Linked DNA regions of Homo sapiens: regions 2 and 3 are each linked to region 1. Evidence: fine-mapped expression QTL. A gene starts in region 1. Each other region holds a variant in brackets. All regions are shown on one strand. Distances are between the middles of the regions. Region 1 holds the start of LACC1 (laccase domain containing 1). Region 2 has its middle 57 kb from the start of LACC1. Region 3 overlaps ENOX1 (ecto-NOX disulfide-thiol exchanger 1).

Evidence for each region. PIP is the estimated chance that this variant, and not a neighbour inherited with it, causes the effect.
Region 2: its variant is the best candidate, but not a certain one, in a credible set for the expression of LACC1 in esophagus muscle (GTEx, PIP 0.88).
Region 3: its variant is the best candidate, but not a certain one, in a credible set for the expression of LACC1 in whole blood (INTERVAL, PIP 0.69).

Annotation. Positions count from the first base shown.
Region 1 is chr13:43,876,449-43,883,425 of GRCh38, reverse strand. It overlaps LACC1 (laccase domain containing 1), which reads right to left and starts at 3,522. Exons shown (of 7, transcript NM_153218.4): 1 at 3,307-3,522; 2 at 1,879-2,474; 3 at 1,063-1,241. The coding sequence starts at 2,440. It overlaps CCDC122 (coiled-coil domain containing 122), which reads left to right and starts at 3,686. Exons shown (of 7, transcript NM_144974.5): 1 at 3,686-3,795. RefSeq lists a silencer at 3,635-3,784.
Region 2 is chr13:43,933,640-43,940,616 of GRCh38, reverse strand. No RefSeq gene overlaps it. Among named protein-coding and RNA genes, the nearest start is that of LACC1, 57 kb to the right of the region's middle. RefSeq lists a silencer at 6,954-6,977. The variant A/T (reference allele first, on the strand shown) is at 3,813.
Region 3 is chr13:43,738,125-43,745,101 of GRCh38, reverse strand. The region is part of intron 1 of ENOX1 (ecto-NOX disulfide-thiol exchanger 1); the gene reads left to right. Among named protein-coding and RNA genes, the nearest start is that of ENOX1, 45 kb to the left of the region's middle. The variant A/G (reference allele first, on the strand shown) is at 3,705.

The sequences.
Region 1 (6,977 bases):
TAACAAATCAATGATACTTTTACTTTTCCAAGACTCAAGTAAAGCTAGAATTCTGTAAGGAACAAGACATTATCTCATCAACTATGACCCTAGTTCCTCCTGGAGTAGATTTATAAAATAATGGCCTTTCTCTACCACCATTCAGTTCCCTTTCTTCTAAATCAAAAAGAGCAGTGGTAGTATACTCTCTGAGAATTAACTGTACTTTTAGAATTGAGGACTCCAGATGAAATATACAGTAGGCTCTTGAATAATGTCATTTTATTCCACATCATTTCATTATAATGTTAATGAAAAAAATTGATTACCCACCCGGTCACTGACTGTGTGAGGTTTGCACCTTCTCCTCACGTCCACATGGGTTTTCTCTGGGTACTCCAGCTTCCTCCCACATCCCAAAGAAGTGCATGTTAGATGAATTGGGGTGTCTACATGGTCCCAGCATGAGTACGTGTGTGTGTGTGTAAGGGCACCCTGCAATGGAATGGTGTCCTGTCGAGGGTGGGTTGTGGCCTTGCATCCTGATCTGCCAGAATAGACTCCAGCTACCTAAAGCCCTGAACCGAAATAATTTGGTAGTTATCTTATTTGTCTTTCTTACTGTTTTGTAAATATATGTCTAGCTCACATTTATTTCAATGTTTAATACTAGGAATGTGTTGGTCTTTATTTAGAAGTTTGGTGATGTTTTTGTGACAAGAAATATGCCTTAGAAACTTTATTCTTATTTATATCAATTAGCCTATGGTAAAATTGGTTTTATTATGTCGTTTCACTTAAAGTCACAATTTCTAAGAACCTATCAACATTAAAGGATGACTTACTATATGTGTGTGTGCATATATATATATATATATATATCTGCACGTGTGTGTGTGTGTGTATAAAATAGAACTTATCTTTAGGCTATGGTGTATAAATCTAAGAAAGACAACCACAGCATTATTCTAAAACTTTAGATAAAAAAGCAGATACAAAAGTTAAATAGCTTAAAGTCCATGTAGTTACTAGCAAAGTAAAAAATATACTTTAGATCTTTCAAAATATAAAGCAAAATTTTACCTTTATTCGGTAAAATTTCTCCACATTAAATCCTGCAGCATTCGCCAACCTACGCAGATTTTCTTGAACCACTACCTTGGGATCTCTCCGTTTGGAACTACTGAAGAGATTGAATGAGCTAAGAGTTGGTATATAAGATATCCCACCTGTTCTTGTAGTAAATCCATGTATGAAAATATCTGTTGAAGATAAGCAGTGAAGATTTAAAAGATGCTATTCAAAATACCAGTCTCTCAATTAGACCTTCCCTGATCACTGCTACCTGCCCTTGTTATTTGGCTTCTAATTTCTATGGCATTTTGTACCTCCATATGTTCTTATGGCATTCTGCTTTGTGTTTGTTTTACACTCCCTATGAGATTGTTGCTCTTCAAAAGGTATATTGTGTCTCATCTGGCTTTGTTATATCTAATAGCATATAGCTCACAGAAAATACTGTTTAACCAAGAAGTAAGATTGATTGTTTTAAATTTTACTCTTCTATGAAGGTGCCAATGATTTGAAATTTCAGAATTTCTAAATAGAAGATTTTCAGTGTCATAAATCTCATTGCAAAGGAGGGCTAGATTATTTGTCTCATCATCAAATTTTTGTAAAGCAAATTTATTTATTTGGGGTGGCTTTGAAGGCTTTATCCCTTGACACCCCTGATACTACAGGGCCAAACATGACACCTCTGTGTTGCCACTGATGCTAATGAGTAATCAGCCCACAACAGTCAACAAAAGAAAGGAGGAAAAAAAGAGGTGAACTACCTCTGAAGAAAGACTAGTTTTCCATGTACAAAGTAAAAACAACAGTTAGTGGTTAATATACCTGGGATCAAAGAAGAAGTGATAATAGTTAATTTTCCTCTCAGTGCTGGCAGACTTCTCAAAAATGTTTCTATTTCATTCTGAATTCCTCTTAGTTCTTGAGCTGTGATTACGTTTATTTCAATGGACTGTTTAAAAAGCCCTCCCCTAAAAGTCACTTGCAAATCTTCAAATTCAAAATTGTAAACATCAGTGAAGAGTTGATCAATAAAAGCTTTCATTAATGTCTTCCTGTGCCTGGGTACAATTACCTTAATGCTGCTCAGATTTTTTTCATCAATTTTCTGTTTAATGGTATACAAAGTGGCAGCCATGCTGGGACAGCTAACAATCTCAAATTCTTCCAAGAGAGCTGATAATCCATTGCTTGTTTCTATTTCACAATTATCTTGTTCTCCATCCCTTTCATAGCTGATGTTACTGCAACACATTATACAGAGAAACTTGGCCTTGGCAGCATGGTGGTATTGGACAGCATTCAAAGTCTTCAGTAATGTCTGATGGCAGTTTTTTTGAGAGTTCAATTTCAAACCAAAAAGATCAATCAAAACAGCTTCTGCCATCCTTGAAAGAATACTTTTATGCCAAATAAATCACCTGCAAATAAAAATTAGTGTAAGAATATAAGATTATATAAATCTTATAGTTACAACAGAAATTTGTGGTAGATTAAAAACGAAGTAATTACACTGATTTTAAAATGTAACTAAAATAGTAAATCTAGGCCCCTCCCAGAAAAGCCAGTCTACTCTGTCACAACAGAACCATGACAGTGAAAGCAAAGCCATCTTTTAATTCGTTTTGTGAAAATGCTGGTACATCTTTCCAGCAGCACGACAGTTCCTCTGTTTTGTTTACACAGAACTTTTGAGTAAGGAATTACTTGTGGAGTTTAGACAAAGTCCTGTTTTTAAATTGCAGAGTGTCAACCTGTGTGATATATCATTAGTCCTGACATGATTGTCATATTAGGTCTCATCCTTTCATATGCGGGGGCTTAAGTTTACGAAGCTAAATGGAGCTGCACGCGAAATTCGCGTTTTAAGATGATAAAAGCTGAGATGGCTAATAGAGTTCCCTTCAGGATTTGCGCAGTACTCCACACTTAGCAATGACCACAAAAGCTATAGTGATTTGGATGAGACAGGCTTCCTCTCAACTTTCTTAATTCATTCTCCCCGTGCAGCTTTGCTCACCTCCAGCCCAGCCCTCCCACCCCAACCTGCGGGGCTCCGGTGACCCCCTTTGGTGACGCCCTTTGCCCCAAGAAGGTTTTCTCCTGCCGCTTCCCCTAACCTTTGCTCCCCATCTCTCGGGGCTCCCTCTGAGGTTCATTTAGCCAGTTTTGAGTGGGTGACCGTCCCCCCTTCCCTGTTCATTGTGAATTTCCGCCCAACGTGTGTCGCCGCCAGGTCCCTGTTCCTCCTACCCGCCTCGGCTCACGGGGCGCAGGCTGTGGCTCTGCACCTGCCCGGGCACCTCCACCGGCGGCTCACAGCCCATTCGGGACTTCCTGTCGGACAACGCACACCAGAGGCGATTCGGTCCTCGCCTTCCCGCTCTTCACCTTCGGTTGCACACCGGTCTACGGCGACCTCTGTGACAATTTGCCGCCCCGTCCCTCGTCCTGAGCCTCAACGAAATTGGGCAGCCGCGAGCGGGTCAGCTGGAGTCGTAAGCTCGGCCCAGCGCGACGACACCCGCCCCGCCTCACCTCGCCCACCTCGCCCACCTCGCCCCGCCTCGCCTCGCCCCGCCTCGCCCCGCCTCACCTCGCCCCCCTCGCCCACCTCGCCCCGCCTCACCTCACCTACCTCGCCGCGGCCGCACAGATTCCCCGCCTGATACCGTCCCAGGATCCCAGGGGAAACCTGACGGCCAGGTTCCCTCGTGCCAGCTGCCGGGAGGCGGGAGGGAGGTAGGCCAGGGCCGCCTGGCGTGCTTGGTGCGAACGCGGCGGGCCCAGCGCGAGAGCTGGGGAATCCCGGGATGAGCCAAGCGCCGCGAGCCCGCTGCTGCCTCAGCAGTTCCGGGTCTGGGCGGTCCGCGGAGTCGGCATCCCGCAGCCCCGGCGGCGTTAGAGGAACAGGAACCAGAGCCGCGCGAGGGCTCTCGCCCGGGAGCCAGGCGGGTTAGCGGGCAGGAGTGGGCAGGCCGAGTCCGGAAAGGGTCGCGAGGAGGCAGCTAGGGGCCCCTTGAGGAGGGATAGGGCGGCGGAACGACGGGCCCTGGGAGCGGGCGCAGGGCGGCAGGAGCTGCAGGTCTCCAGAGGGCACGGGGCGGGGAACTAGGGGCCCGGTTAGAAAGCCGGGCGGCGGGAACGGCGGGCACCGTGAGGGGGCGGCGGGAATGGTGGGTCGCGTGAGGCCGGGCTGCTGGAGCGACCTCGGGACTAAACCGCAGTCTCCCTTCTGCTAATGGAAGCCGTTTCCCAAGCGAGCTGAAGTCCGCGTTTCCGGTCTCTGAGGGACGCCTCGCTGACCCAGCAGTGTGGTCAGGACGCTGGGTTTCCTCACCGCAGCCCAGGGCCAGTCCCTTGTCATGCTAGCTCTTGGCAGCTTTTCCCATGCAGGGCTCAAGTCAGGGGCCCCCTCGAGATGTTTTAGTGTTTTTTTGTTGTTCATTTGTTTCCAGAAACAAGCTGTTGTCTCTCCTCCAATGTCTTTGTGCTGATTCTTGCTGACCAACACTCTTCCGAGCGCCTTCACTTGTGTTGACAACACGGATGTCCTCTATGGCCTTTTAAAATATGTGCCACTAGCAGGACTTAAGTAAAAGGCGCTCATCCCTAAAATCATGATAAAGGTGCAGTTTAGCATCCCTGATCTGTCCTCCAAGAATATAACGTTCATTTATTTGAAAATAGCAGTTAGGACATGGAAGGCCAGTGTATGGTAAAGGGAAAAAATATCCGACCTTCCAAGAGTAAGAGAAATGGTGCTTCCTGGGGAACTGGTTATGATGGAAGGAGAGGTCCCTTTTATCTTCATTGTTGCTCATTTGGTAGGCGCTAAAGAACCTTTGTCTCATAATCTCAGATAGCTGGGAATTTGGAAGAGCCCTCTGGGGTAGGCATGTTCTTGTGCTTGACTAGAGACTGGGAGCACTAACCCAGAATGGAAACCCACCCTTCAATAACCCTAGCACCAGTTATGTCAAAATTCATGTTTTCTTTGGTCATTTGTTAAAGAGCCCCGAGCGGTAGATGGTACACCCAATCAGAAGGTGCACTCTGCCCTGAGTTTGTTTATGTTAAATATCATTAGATTGGTGCAAAGGTAATTGCGGTTTTTGCCATTGACAAAGACCACAATTACTTTTGCACCAGCTTAATACCTCAAGCAAAACAGAGGTCTTTTAGTTACAAAGGTTTTAAACATTTATCTCTGTTTTTACAATGGTGGGATTCGTATTCTTTCATGCAAAAGTAGTGGCAGTAAAAAAAAAATGAAAAAGAAAATATTTCAAAAGAATGAAGTTGTCAGGGAAGAGAGTTTGTTATATTGTATTTGCATACCATTTCCTTTCACCATCTGGTCCTAGTGTCATGTCCTAACACTTCCTCATCCCATTTTCACTCTATCCTACTCCAGTGGTTCTCAGTCTTGGCTGCAAATCAGAACTGCAAGTGCAACTGAAAAAAAAAATAATTAATGTAGAGACTCTATCCCAAATATACATTGAATCAGAATCTCTAGGAGTTAGGCCTGAGCATGTTTTGCTTTGCTTTTTTGTTTTGTTTTAACCTCTATGTATGAGTTAGATGCATAATTAAGTTTGAAAAAATAAAAACACCCTATTCCCAAGCCACTCAAATAAAAGCTGTTCTTTGGAGGCCACATGATTTCATTCTTTACATTTGCAGTTCCTCTACTTAGCAAAATACCCTCCTTTTTATATGCCTAACTGCTACTTTTTGTTCAAGGCTCTTCAAGCTCAAACATAATCTTCCCTGAATCCCCATCCCTCATCAAGCAAAATTAATAGCTTCTTTACATTTTGTTCATATGAAGAAGCCCTCTCATAGATGTAGTCTGGGCCCCTAGCCAAGAAATAAGTGGAAAAAATGGTTAAATATTGAATTGTACACTTTATAAGGATGTACTTTGTGGTATGTAAATTATATCTAAAAAAGGCTTTTTTTATAAGAAAAAAGGTCAGTTAAACCACAGAATCATGAAAAAATATAACAAATACCTTAAACTGTATTCTAACCTAAAACAACTGTGTGTTCATTTGCCCATCTATTGAGAAGATCCAAGACCTTTTCTTTGCATGTAGTCTACTGATTGGAATTCTGCATACTATCTCTTGCATAAACCGTACCCATAAACCATCAGCTAAGATTTCCCAAGATTTTGTTCTTTTAAGGGGAAAATAACTTAAAGGCACCTGTGAAGCAATCTGAGGGCAGATTTATACTTTGTAATTTTTTTCTTTTTTGAGATGAAGTCTCGCTCTGTCGCCAGGCTGTAGTACAGTGGTGCGATCTCGGCTCACTGCAGCCTCCACAGGGTTCAAGTGATTCTCCTGCCTTAGCCTCCCAAGTAGCTAGGATTACAGGCGTGCACCACCACGCCCGGCTAATTTTTGTATTTTTAGTAGAGACGGGGTTTCACCATGTTGGCCAGGATGGTCTCGAACTCCTGACCTCTCTTGATCTGCCTGCCTCAGCCTCCCAAAGTGCTGGGATTACAGGCATGAGCCACCGCTATATTTTATAATCTTTTACAGTTAATCTCACATACTTTTGTTGGGTCTTTCCAAAATATTAAACATAGATTTTTAAAGAAACAACAATTTCCACACTATTTCATTGGTTTATACAATATTAAGTTACGAAAGCACAATATCAAGCACAACTGGCAAAAACAGGTTTGCAAACAAACACAAGTAAGTCATAAGATTGAACTAGTCAATTGATAGGAGCAGAAATAGGCAGATTTACTAGTTAACAGTTTCCTAGCATGATATGGGAATTAGTCACTTATGACTTACAAAGGTAATAGAGTGAGTTAAGTGGTTAGAGGTTATGTGTAGATAGGCTTAGACATAAGCTGCTGCGCCTCTCCATTTTAATTGACTGTGTGTCTTTCTGCC
Region 2 (6,977 bases), 57 kb before region 1:
AGAAAGAAAGAAAGAAAGAAAAAAAGAAAGAAAGAAAGAAAAGAAAGAAAAGAAAGAAAGTAAGAAGAAAATAAAAGAAAACAGCCTTAGAAATTAGTTTGCCCACCCCTGGAAGAATTCGTATTTAGGAGTAACGGCATGAGGAAAAATAAATTGAACTGGAGTATTTGGGTGTGCGTTTATGTGGCATAAACCTGGGAGAGCTGGTTGCTCCCAGCAGCTGCTATGGTGAAGCCGAGACCACATCCCTTGCATATTGAAGCCGTAATAGTTTCAAGAGATGTCACCTTTGTGAGGCAAGGGCTGGAAAAATGCTGTTGTTATAAAGAGCACATTTTGGGGTAGATTCTTTCTCCAGCTTGGGGCAAAGTTGCAAGGGTGAACTGGAAACACTTTAAGGTCCATTACAAGTTTAAAATGTGATGGAGGAGTGAAAAAAATATCAGAGTTTGGTGACTGGAATTTCTGGAGCAGTTCAGATGGTAAAGTTATGGCTCCAAGCACCAAAGGGTTACCCTATTAAACTTCAGGAAATGTCTGGGCCTCCAGTGATATTTTACTCCAACTTCAAATCACAACTTCAATTCACATTTTAAAGAAAACTAAGAAAAAAAATTAAGCTGTTTTTAAATTATATACATTTACCAATTAGATGAAAACCTAGATGCCAACTTGTTACAAAAGCCAAGTGGAACTGCAGTTTTTATCTGTAGTTACCTAAAGAAAACCACGCATAAATTTGGTTAATATTTTATATCTATAACTATATATCTATGTACATTTACATATGTAGACAAATAAAGATATATCAGATGCCAGCTGACTTCCAGATAGTGATTTGTAATATTCTTTTGAAGATAATACCTTCATAACCATCTTTTTTTTTTTTTTGCTAGGATGTCTAGCCAAAACACACTTACTTTTCATAATGGCATGAAATATGTGAAGAATAAGAAAAATTACCTATGAAAACAGCTAGTGCCAAAATCAAATTGAAAATTCAAGGAATGCCAAAGTCTGAAAGGGCGTTATGTGTGCACACTAGTGAGCTGAAGTGGTCAGCCAGATTCACCAAACAGCTCTCAGTTCACTTGCAAGGTCCATTATAGGATTTTCTCATCTGCCCTGTTCTTTCTTCTTTGGCTTCTGCATGAACCTAAATAAATACATTCTTTACCCAGAAGGGTGTGTCCACCCTGTGGTGTGGGTCTGGTGATTGGCTTCAGGAAGGAACTAAGTATTGAAATTGGCTGTGGACACCATGGTCTACATTGCCTTTGAGCCACAGTCTTGTTTGCTTAGGGAGAGGAACAGGCTGCAAGGAGGAGGCACCTTCTTCCTCCACTGCTGAATTTCAATGAGCAGAATCTATCAACAAAGTCAGGGCAGTGTAAGGCCTGACAGGCCCTGGGCCTCTTCTGGGCTGAGGCCAGATGGGATTTGAGCCTGATGCAGAACTTGTTACATTTAATATTAAAGAAGCATGAAGCAATAGCATGACCCAGGGAGGCGTAGAAGTTATGGCCAGGCAGCCTTCTCTTTCCTGCCCTGCTGTCTGATGCTACTCAGAAATAAAGGCATCTTCTTTTTCAGATAACTATATAAACAATACATAACAGGTGCTAGTTACACATTTTACTACCATAATTCACAAAAAGAAAATGCCACAGCTTATAAATTGTGTGTGAATTTCGAATTTCATTTTGTCCTTAAAATGATTTCCTTTCCCTAAAACTTGAAAGCCAGTACATTCAGTTGCCTATATAAATTAACTCAACAGTTTGGGGTATGCCTGGAGAGCAGGCCTAACTTCAGTACCAGGCTTGCCAGATTCAAGGGTTCAAGACAGAGCCTGGTCTGTTTCTGGTTTTATCTAGCTGTGTACTGGTGGGAAAACATTTCACAGTGGTATCTTGTTCAGTATTACTCCTCCTAGGGTGTCTCTGTGCCCTCTCAATTTATTTCACTGACAAAAAGCATGTTTTTAATCTGTCTGCATCACTGAACTGACTGAGAAAACAGAGAGCACAAAATAGATTCTATTCCTTGTGAATTATTAAAGCAAGTTGTCAGCAACTGTAAATCCTGCTAACGGATGACAGCCTCAGAAACAGAGAATACAATCTGTACAGCCTAGTGGAACAAAAGAAAGAGAATCACTTCTTGAATGGAAAATTGAAGAAATTCCTATTTAAATTTAGAATATGAATTTCAAGGCCATCCTGACCATCAACCCAAATCCAAATTAACCAATAAGTCCTTTTAAGCCATGGTTGGATAAAGTTTCATACCATTTTGTTATTGTTGTTGTTCTTGTCTTTCCTTAATACCTTATCTGGTTGAGAGCAGAATCAGCCAGAGTGATTTAAATGATGTTTCAGAGGAAAAGTTTGTGGGCACTTAATATAGATACCTTTTAAAGCCTTTGTAAAAAGATGTAAAAATTGTACATAAAATAAAACAAATGTATGACTTTAACCACTAAATGAAACTAAAATAAAGGATACTGAGTTCATGTGAGTTCCATTCTCCCTTTTGCCAATTCTAATTCATTGTCTATTCATTTGGCAAGTGTTTGCTGGAGTCACACAATAATTTATTTCCTCTCTGTTCTTTTTGCAGCAAATACTCTTGGGAAGGTATTTAGAACTTCCTGGCCAGCAAAAGAATATGAAAAAAAAAGTCTTTACTATAGTGTTAACCAAAATTTTTTTATTTCACCAGTTTGGGCGTTTATTTGTATCCATCCTACATTAGAAAATGCCAGGGAGTAGCTAAATATTAATAATGTTGTTTTTCTTTTTCAAGAAACACCATGAGCGCCACAGACTCTGATTCAAAATGAACTCATGGCCTAACATCAATGAGACACCGAGCACCAGATGTCAGGTCCAGAGCTGCCCTGCCTGGGGTGTGAAGGGGCCCCTCCCCTCTCTGAGCCTCAGTGGCCCCACATTCATATGACCTGAAGAGTAAATGCCTCCTGAAGTTTTGTACTTGAGGCACCTCACTCACCCACCCTGGTCCAGTCCCTGCCTCAATGTTACTACTTTGGTAAGCTTTATGACTCCAGAACCAACAAGTATGAAGGGCTTTCTTTATTCTGTCTCTTCACAGTGTAAGATGGGTGAAAATTTTAACAGTTCACCTTGCCTCCAAGATTAATCACACTCCCAAAGCCCAGCAATAGTGGATGCTTTCTACATGAGCTGCCTCAAGTTGGGGTTAAAGAAGCATTGCTGCCCCAAGAGTGTTCAGAAATTGCATCGAGGGCAGTGTCTGAATGCTGACACTAGACTGTTTTGCTCAACAGTGATCGCTCCTTTGGTTCTTGTCTTGTGCTTTAGCCCTGATTTTTGCTAACTGTGACATTTGGCTTTAGTTCCTCTTGAGTTTCTGCCTCCTGGCTTCCACCTTGTCTCAGCAGCAGAACTTCCAACTCTGACCGTTAGCCATGTCCTTGATCTGGTTTGTCGTGTGGATTCTCTTTGGGTTTCCTGCCCTCTTTTCCCCACAGTCCTGGGCTAAGGTCTGGAGGCCATTTCAAAATCCATGACGGTCACTGTGAGTGTGTCCTGGAAGCGAGAGAGGAGGCCAGAAAAACGTTTTCTAATGCTCTTTTCCTACCATATAAAACAGATTTTAAAAAATATATTTTGCTCTTCTGGAATGCATAGGTGTGTTACAAAAATTAACATCTGTGAAGCCTGTGTAGATTAATGTGAAAAGCATTTGTGTAGAAGAGTGCCAAGCTATTGCCTTGGCAACAACTCCACAATAGAAAAAGAAAACCTCTAACATCAGCTATAATT[A/T]CAAAGTAAGGCGGCTGCTTTTGTTTTTACCAACACAGCAGCTCTGTACTTCCAGGTGCCAGTTATCCCCTTCAAATTAGCTATTGTGATAAATTATCAGTTATTTCATCTATTTCAGCAGTAAACCTCTGTCCAAAAAATTGTTTGGAATGACCTTTTGGTATTTCCTTTATGACTGGTAGCAGGGACATTAAAAAAAAAAATCCTTAATGGTAAAAAGTCTTTGTCCTACCAAATGTGGGGGGAAATTTAGCCATAATCTAGGAACTATTGGAAAGAGACAGAGACAGAGACAGTGACAGGAATGGATAGATAGATGATAGATAGATAGATAGATAGATAGATGATTGATAGATAGATAGATAGATAGATAGATAGATAGATAGATAGATGATAGACAGACAGAGATTATGTCTATCACTATTAGACCTGGCTCTAAAGTAGTAAGGTAGATGTGTGCACATGTATGCATGCACGTGGGGCAAAGGGGAGGCAGGTGTATGTGTGAGGGAGTGAGAAAGAGACAGAGAATATCCTAGGCATTCCAATTTGTTGGTGGAGTGTGATTTTATTTCTCACCAAACAAAGGAAGCAAATCTAACAGGCTGTGCATGCTACAACTTCCACTCTTGTCAGGAAAATTTCTCAGTTTCAGTCTTGATTGGAAGCAGAAATTTTTTTGAAGCACAGATGATTTGTCAGCTGGAAGGCAGAAGGTCTCTTGGGACACACCACAAGAATGTCTTTCCTCCATCCAGGAGTCACACAGTCTTGTCATCATCTCTGCTGCTGCAAACCAGCCAACACGGTTAGATGTACAGACTTGTGAACACTTTCAATTGGATTTTTGAGAAAAAGGTTACCCTCCAAACTGGTCAATTTGTTCCTAAGCTTCAAGCTCTCTCTCCCTTCCCCATCCAAAACACTTCCTTCTTTTTCTGCTTCCACTAGTCTTTATTTCATTATTCTCTCCCTCAGACCCCTCTCTGCCTCTATAAAGATAAGCAATTATTTTAAGCTTCAAACAAGATGCTGACCCTTGGGGGGCCTTCAAATGCAGAAAGTCTGGGAGAAGATGGAGGATTTGCAGATCAACAGCTCCCTAGTTGATACTCTGGGATACTTTGCAGTTAAGACTAAGGGACTGATGCTGATAGTTTTACTACCTATAGAAAAGTGTGCAAGTAAAGAGAACCAAAGCCTCTCCCCTTCTCTTGAGGAATCTGCTTGCTGCTTCCCTTCCTGTTGGCAGACAATTCAATTTTCAGGTGCCCACAAAGAGGCAGAAACATTCTTACTTTATGAATTCTGGTATTTCTTAACTCATACTGTATATGATTCCTGACCAACATTAACAATGGACTGAATTCCCTGGGATTATAATATTCCCTGAATCCCAGGGTATCTGCCTGTCAGATTCTGGTGAGGACCACCTGAGGCTAAATCAGGACGAAGGCATTCATCCTGTGTTATTGCTCCTAATTCTCCATGGTGCTATTCAACTTCTCACTCTGTAATTGGCATACTACCTTCCCAATTTGCCAGGACTGGCGATTTGCCACATTTCAGAAACTACTTTTGTGTATGCCAGATTATACTGAGGTTCCATGTTCATGGGGTTTTTAAAATCTCTTTTAATCCCTTTGATTGATAGATTACTAAAATATTTCAGGGTGGATTTGTTGGGTCTGTTTTCCTGTTGCCTAAATTCAATTTAGTTTAATTTATATATGGAATTATTACTACAGATAAATATAATCTTTAGTAAGAATTCCATAATTCCATATTTAAAGATGCAGGGGGGAACATACAAATTTAAGGCACAGTTTACATTCTAATTGGGTAGATAATTCAAGCACAAAGAGAAACATAATATAGGACAGAGTAAGGTGTTGTGTCCTAACACATAGAAAGTTATTCATTTACTACTATTCTGTCATGTGTTGGCCATCAGGAATGGGATACTTATGAGAAAAAAAGATGAACAACACAAAGAAGGAAAAGGGCTCTATCAAAGATAGATAGATAGTTAGATAGATAGATAGATAGTTCTTACCAAAGATATGACTAACATTGAATTCTGAGAGGGGCCTGTGCTCCTCTAGCCACACCAGAACCCTCTAAATAGTGTTAAATCAATCTGTTTTCAGGGTATAAGGGTGGAAAGCTATTAAATTATTTTTGTAATGGTGAAATTCAAAGAATAGAAGAGACCTCACAGACCACTTGAGCCAACCTTCCAGAAGAGGCTGAATTCCCTCTTTCAACAGAAATCTCCCTGTATCAGTGAGAGCCCTTCCACTAAACAAACCCAAAAGTGATTCATTCACCTCTTATTGACTCAGCAGCTCATTCCCTCTTCAGACAACTCTGTTCAACTTTCTTACACTAAGAGGAAATCTGTTTCCCTAAAATCTACACCAGATGGACATCTAAACCCTTCCAAGAAAGCCCTTGGATGTTTGAAAACAGGTATTGTGACCCACCACCCATCCTGTTGCCTGTCTCATCCCACCACATTTTTCTCTTCTACAACTAAATTCCCTCAATGGATATCCAATTTCCTCAATGGATAGCGCCCTTCACAATTATTTTATTTTGTTAAAATGTAAAAATAATAAGTGACTATTGTAGAAAACACAAAAAATATAAAGAAACAACCCTACAAGTGTGTGATCTAGTTGGAAAGATAAATGTGTGATAAGGATGCTATAAAAGCACAAAGAAAACTGTACGTGGCATAGCCCAGAGGTACGAAAGTGCATGATATTTAGAAAACTGGAGGACCTCATTCTGGGAAATGATCTGTATGAGAGAGGGGTAAAAGATGAAACTAGAGATCTAGATGGGCAGAAACCAAATCACAAAGGACTCTATGTGTTAAGACGTTTTATTTTTCTCCTAAAAGTTGTAGGGATACATGCCATTAATGTGTTTAAGGAAAGGAGAGATAAGATAAAATGTTTGTTTCTGAAAGGCCATTCTGCTGGCAGAGTGAAGAAAGAATTGAAAGGAGCAAGCTAGGATCAAGAAGAGATCAATTAAGAGGTTATTGCAGAGAAAGAAGTGATGAAAAACAGACTGGCAGCAATGTGGGAGTGGGAGAGAGGCATGGAAAAAATATTTAGGTGATAGAGTCATTATGATTGGTGTTCAATCGAAATT
Region 3 (6,977 bases), 140 kb after region 1:
GGCCAGAGACTGTCATCACCCTGCTACCTCCTCTGTGGAGCTCAAGGCCCAGCATACTCCTAGTGTTCAATAAATAAATGATCATCATTTGCAAGTGAATGTTTTCCAGTTTTCTCCCTAAGAATTTCCTTCACATTGCAATGCCTCTACAAACACTGCCTTCTGGAAAAATTGTTAGTAATCCGTAATGCTAAGATGCATTGTAGATGTAATTTAGATTCACAGCCATTTATGCAGTGCATTATTTAGGCAGTTCAGCACCAAGGAGAGTGACTATTTGCTTTAGCTTGGGTTCAAGGTCAGTGGAGGATTTGCTGTGTTTAGACCCCTATAGTACTGTTGGCAAGATGTAATTTTTCCATAATAGCTGGAAAGCCAAACCCTGTATAAACATACTTTAATAATGGTGAAAGCACTAGCGGAGATGTACACTGAGGAAATATTAAAGTTCACACTCCTGTAGCTAAGACTTAATTGAAGCAAGTAGTCTTTTATTTACATTTGGGTTGCTTGTTTTAATACCAGTTCCTAGAGTAGTTCATCACGTCTTCCATTCCTCTAGACGTGACTGCCAAAGAGCCCATTTTAGGATTCCATTTGGTCTTTGTCTTGTCACCAGGCCTGAGGAAAGATTTACATCTTCCTTTGTGTGTCTTGGAGATCCTTGGCATGGTATCCTAGCCTCCTTTCCTCGTTAAGAGGCACAGCTTCCTCATTAGCTGTTGGTACACTGAAAAAAGAATGACCTGAGGGGTTTATTAGGGTCTTGAACTGAACTCTTTCTGTCTGTTTTTGTAACAGGTTCTCAGAACCTAAAGTGGGTTGCCCAGAACTTGTTTTCAGAGAAGCCCTGAAAAGTATGAGAAAGCCTCATACTTTCACTGTAAAGGAACATTAACTAATGCCATTCCTGTTCTCTGTGGAGGCAGTAGATTTTCACTGAAATGGAAGTTGTTTCTAGGATAGAGAGAGTGAAAAGCTGCTGCTGTGGTTTTAAATGTGTCCTCCCAAAGATCATGTGTTGGAAGCCCCATCACCAACGCAACAGTTTTGAGAGATGGGATCTTTAAGAGGTGATTAGATCATGAGGGCTTTGCCCTCATGGATGGATTAATGTCATTGTCATGAGAGTGAGTTTGCTATTGTGAGACTGGGTTTGTTATAAAAGCAAGTTTGCTCCCCTCTCTCTGGCTCTCTCTCTACCATGTTTTGATGTAGCAAGAAGTCCCTGACCAGATGTTGGCCCCTCAATCTTAGACTTCCTAGCCTCCAGAACTGTAAGAAATAAATCTCTGTAGTTCATAAATTACACAATCTTAAGTATTCTGTTATAGCATTACAAAACAGACTAAGACAGCTGCTAAATCCGAAGAAATTCATCCATTTTTACGCAGAAAGAGAGATCTTCGTGATTTCATTTCTTCCCTGTGTGTTGCAGTACTTATCCTGCTTTACCTGCCTCTCTTAAGGCCAGGGGAGGAAGATCAAGTCTCTTCAAAGGACACTAGAGCTTTAGGAGCATTTTTCCAGTTCAGTGGTATGAGCTATTCAAGTTGTGCCTTGACCATCTTCTCAAGAGGCTTTACTAGAACTTGAGGATTTATACCTGAGAACCCCCTGGGCTGGACCTATTAGAAAATCTACCACAACAGATGCTTGAAAGAGTTTCTGAGTTAATAGGAAATGAGGCTCCTTTGTCTTCCAGTGAAAATGTTCTGGAGGAGTGTGATTTGAGGGGTTCCTGAATTTCTATCTATCCTGTAATGTTTTCTCCACTGTCTTGTGGTAAAATTTGTAGTTCTCACAGTTAATTATTTTTTTTAGGTTAGTCATGATGTCTCTAAGAAGTTCTAATGACATTTCAAATAAATTCCTGATGAGAGATTATCAAGGTCTCCTTCTGTGAAAGTATGAGGCTTCAGGGCTTCTCTAAAAACAACTTCTGGGCAACCCTGAACTTGTTCTGAGAACCTCTTATACAAACAGACAGAAAGAGTTCAGTTCAAGACCCTAATAAAGCCCTCAAGGCATTCTCTTTTCAGTGAATAAACAGCCTCTTTCACTGTAAAGGAACATTAACTAGTGCCATCTATGTGCCCTATGGACTCAGTAGATTTTCAATGAAACAGAAATTGTTTCTAGGATAGAAGGCTTTCATCCTATCCCCCAATTCCCTGTTCCCAGTCTATTTTACACACGGTAGTTTGAGCGATCATGTCCCTATTCCCCAAAATTGCAGTTTGTCTAACTGAAAAATCAAAAATATTAGAGTCAACTGAGTCCTTTCTTTATCTCACACCTACATCCAGTCTCTTAGCAGATCCTATCAGCTCAACTTCCAAAACATCCAGAATTCAACCACTTCTCTCCACTTCCAGTGCTACTCTCTTGGTTGAGCCACCATTATCTCTTATTTGGTGTGTGGTTAATTTTATGTGTCAACTTGACAAGGCCAAAGAATGCCCAGATAACTGGTAAAACATTGTTTCTGGGTATGTTTGTGAGAGTGTTTCTGAAAGAGATTAACATTTGAATTGGTAGACTGAGTAAAGAAGATGGCTCTCACCAATGTGAGTGGGCATCATCTAATCTGTCAAGGGCCCAAATAGACAAATAAGATGGAGGAAGGGTGAACTAACACACTCTCACACTCACACACACACACTGTCTCTCTCTGTCTCTGTCTCTCTCTGTCTCTCTTTGCTTGAGTATCCATTTTCTCCTGTCTTTGACTGGACATTGATGCTTCTAGTTCCTAGGCCTTTGGACTTGGACCAGGACTAACACTACTGGCTCCTCAGCCCTTCAGATTTGGATTGTTACTATGTCACTGGTTTTCCTGACCAGCATGTCGATCATGGGACTTCTCAGCCTCAATAATATGTGTGCCAATACTTCATAATTTCTTTCTATATGTCTCTATATATCTATTGGTTCCTTTTCTCTGGCAAGCCCTAATATACATGATTTATGATAATAGCTTTCTAACTGGCTTCTCTGCTTCTACCCTTGCCCATTTTGTCTATTCTTAATATGACTATAGAAATTCTGTTAAAATGTAATTTAGTTTTATAAGAGTGCAAGGTAATTCAATGTGAGAAAGAATAATCTTTTCAACAAATGGTGCCAGGACAACTGAATCTCTACATGCAAAAGAATGAACTTAGACTCTTTCTCTTATACCATATGCAAAAATTAATTCAAAAATATTTTAAAGGCCTAAAATAAGACCTAAAGCTATAAAACTATTAGAAGAAAACAGATGTAAATCTTCATGATCTTGGATTAGGCAACAGTTTCTTAAATATGACACTAAAAGCACGAGCAACAGCAACAAAAAACAGATAAATTGGACTTCGTCAACATTTTATAATTCTGTGTTTTAAAGCACACCATAAAAAAGTGAAAAAGCAATCTACGAAATGGGAGAAAAAGTTGCAAATCATGTATCTGATAAGGGACTTGTATATTGGATATGTAAAGAACTCATGCAACTTAATAAAAAAGGTACATAACACAATTCGAAAATGGGCAAAGATCTGAAGAGATCAAAAAGCACATGAAAAGGTACTCAGTCTCTGAAATGTAAATCAAAACCACTATGAGATACCACACCAGCTTAGATGGCTATATTCAAAAAGACCAATAATAACAGGTGTTGTTGAGGCTATGGAGAATTTGAAGCCCTCATACACTGCTGGTAG[A/G]ATATAAAAAGGTTCAGGCGGGCGCAGTGACTCACACCTGTAATCCCAGCACTTTGGGAGGCCGAGGTGGGCAGATCACAAGGTCAGGAGTTCTAGACCAGCCTGGCCAACATGGTGAAACCCCGTCTCTACTGAAAATACAAAATTTAGCCAGGCGTGGTGGCATGTGCCTGTGATCCCAGCTACTTGGGAGGCTGAGGCAGAAGAATCTCTTGAACCTGGGAGGCGGAGGTTGCAGTGAGCTGAGATCACGCCATTGCACTCCAGCCTGGATCACAAAGCAAGACTCTGTCTCAAAAAAAAAAAAAAAAAAAGTTTCAGCCATTTTGGAGAACAGTTTGGCACTTTTTCAAAAGGTTCAACACAGAGTTACCATATGACCTAGCAATTCTTCTCCTAGATATTTACCCGAGAGAACTGAAAATGTGTCTGCACAAAACTAGTACACAAATGTTTATAGCAGCACTATTCATAATAGCTAAAAAGAGGGAACAACGCCAATGTCCTTCAACTGTTGAATAAACAAAATGTGATATAGCTAGACAATGGAATATTATTCATCGATAAAAAGAAATGAAGTACTGGCACGTGCTACAACAAGGATGAACCTTAAAAACATGTGAAGTGTAAGAATCCAGACATAAAAGACCACATATTGTATGACTCCATTTATAAGAAATGCCTGGGACCAAGAGTTTGGGGTGGAGGTTGAAGTGACTGCTGATGGATATGGGGTTTCTTTTTGGAGTAACAAGGATGGAGGGTAGAGGAGGGAGAGGATCAGGAAAAAATAAGTAATTGGTACTAGGCTTAATACCTGGGTAATGACATAATCTGTACAAAAAACCCCACGAGACATGTTTACCTATGTGACAAACCTGCACTTGTACCCCTGAACTTAAAAAGTTAAAAAAAAATAAAAAATGTTTTAAAGTTGTCTGTGATCATGATTGTACAACTCTGTGAATATACTAAAACTCCTTCAACTGCACATCTAAAATGGATATCATATGCCAATTATATCTCAGTAAAGGTGTTAAAAAAAAAAGGTAAATTGGTTGAGGTCACTTCTTTGCTAAAAACCCTCCAATGGTTTCCCTTCTCTTTCAGAGTAAATGCAAAGTCCTTCCAGTGGTTCCTGGTGTTTCCCTACCTTGAACACCTACTACCTTTTGTCTCATTTACCCCACTGCAGGCACATGGCCTCATTTCTGTGCCTCAGAAATGTCGCTCTTCTAACTCACGACTTATGAATCTGTTGTTCCCTCTGCTGGGAACACATTCCCCATATTCAGTTGACCTTCCAACAATGTGGGAGTTAGGGGCACCGACCACTTGCACAGTTGAAAAGCTGCACATAACTTTTGACTCCCCCAAAATTTACAACAAAGTAAACTTGAGAAAAGAAAACGTTACTAAGAAAATCATAAGGAAGAGAAAATATATTTTTACTATTCATTAAGTGGAAGTGCATCATTATAAGGTCTTCATCCTTGTTGTGTTCAAGTTGAGTAGGCTGAGGAGAGGTTGAGGAAGAGAAGGGGTGGGTCTTGCTGTTTCGGGTGGCAGAGGCAGAAGAAAATTTGAGTTTAAGTGGACCCGTGCAGTTCAGACCCATGCTGTTAAGGGTTAACCGTATATCACACAGCTTCCTCCCTCACCTTCTTTAGACTTTATCCATCACTTTATTTAACCATCTTATTTATTAATAAAATACAACCTCATCACAACAGCTCTTTTCTTATGTTATTTTTCTCTCTTGGTCTTAGAATCATCTAACTCCCACACACGTTTATATATATTTAAATAAATACATTTATTATATAATAATAATAATTATTATTATTTGAGACAGGCTCTCACTCTGGTTGCCCAGGCTGGAGTGCAGTGGTGCTATCTCAGCTCACTGCAGCCTCCACCTCCTGAGCTCAGGCGATTTTCCCACCTCAGCCTCCCAAGTAGCTGGGACTACAGGCGCATGCCACCATGCCCGGCTAGTTCTTTGCGTTTTTAGTAGAGATGGGGTTTTGCCATATTGCCAAGGCTGGTCTTGAACTCCTGGACTCAAGCAATCTGCCCGACTTGGCCTCCCAAATTGCTGGGATTACAGGTGTGAGCCACCACACCCACCAATATATTTATCATTAATTGATAACATTGTGTTAACCTTCGATGAAGGAAAGAATTTTGGCCTGGTATTGTTCACCAGTATGTCCCCAGTACTTAGAAAAATGCCGGTACATAGTAGATATTTGTTGAAGAAATGACTTAGTGTAAGATTGTTAGTGAACAAATGGTGTCAATTAATCTGATTAGCTAGTTGGAACCTAGGAAACAGTTGGAGATAGAGGAAATGGGAGATAGGATAGTTTTTTTATTTTAGTGTGGCCTTGCAGATTTGTCCATTTTTGGAAGGATGGGCACTGTCCATAAAGGGCAACCCCGCTAAGCCATGAGTATGGAGGGTAAGGGACCTGGGTGCTAATTGAGAAAAAAAGTTCAGAGAGGAAATGGACTGGAAGGACTATGAAAGCAGAAATGGGCCAGGTAAAAGGCAATACCTCTTGCTTTGCAGTTTTAATTGGGATGAGTGCTGGACCTCCTTAATAATTGAGTTACTGATTGGCAAAACTAGCATGAATAGGCAAAATGGTTTCAGAGTTTGGGAACAAAAAAATCTATATATATTACTATAATCAAATATCACTGTAAATAACTGAGCAAACATTACCCAGGAAGAATCAGTTGCCATCTTGGTATGCTTGTGGGACATTTACTTGCTTTATATATTTTTTCAAAACCTTTCTAATGATATGCAACTAAAGAATTATTGTTTGGAAGACACCTCTCTTTGAAAAGTAGTAAATGAAAACATTGTTTCTATTTAAATGTGGGTGAGTGGTGGATTATCTAAATAGAGACTGTTAATATTGACTAATTTTTAAAATGGGTAATTTAAGAACTAGTTCCTTTGTAATTCTATACATGGCCTGAGAGAATGTTAGCCATAGACTAGATGTTTTCAATATAATATGTTATTTTCTTTATTCATTTAACGTCAGAGAACTTTAAATTACTGCATTGTTTGATTATATGCTTGGCTCTATAACTACATATTGTTATGTTGAAAAACTGTTTAAAGACATGTTTAAAATACTATGGCCTAATTTATAAAATTATTTTCCTCTAGGTGGTATCATGTACTATGTACTCTTTAAGCTTGGGTAAAAGGGCTTTTGTGAAGGTATTCATACTCTAAAGAATTTGGCATTT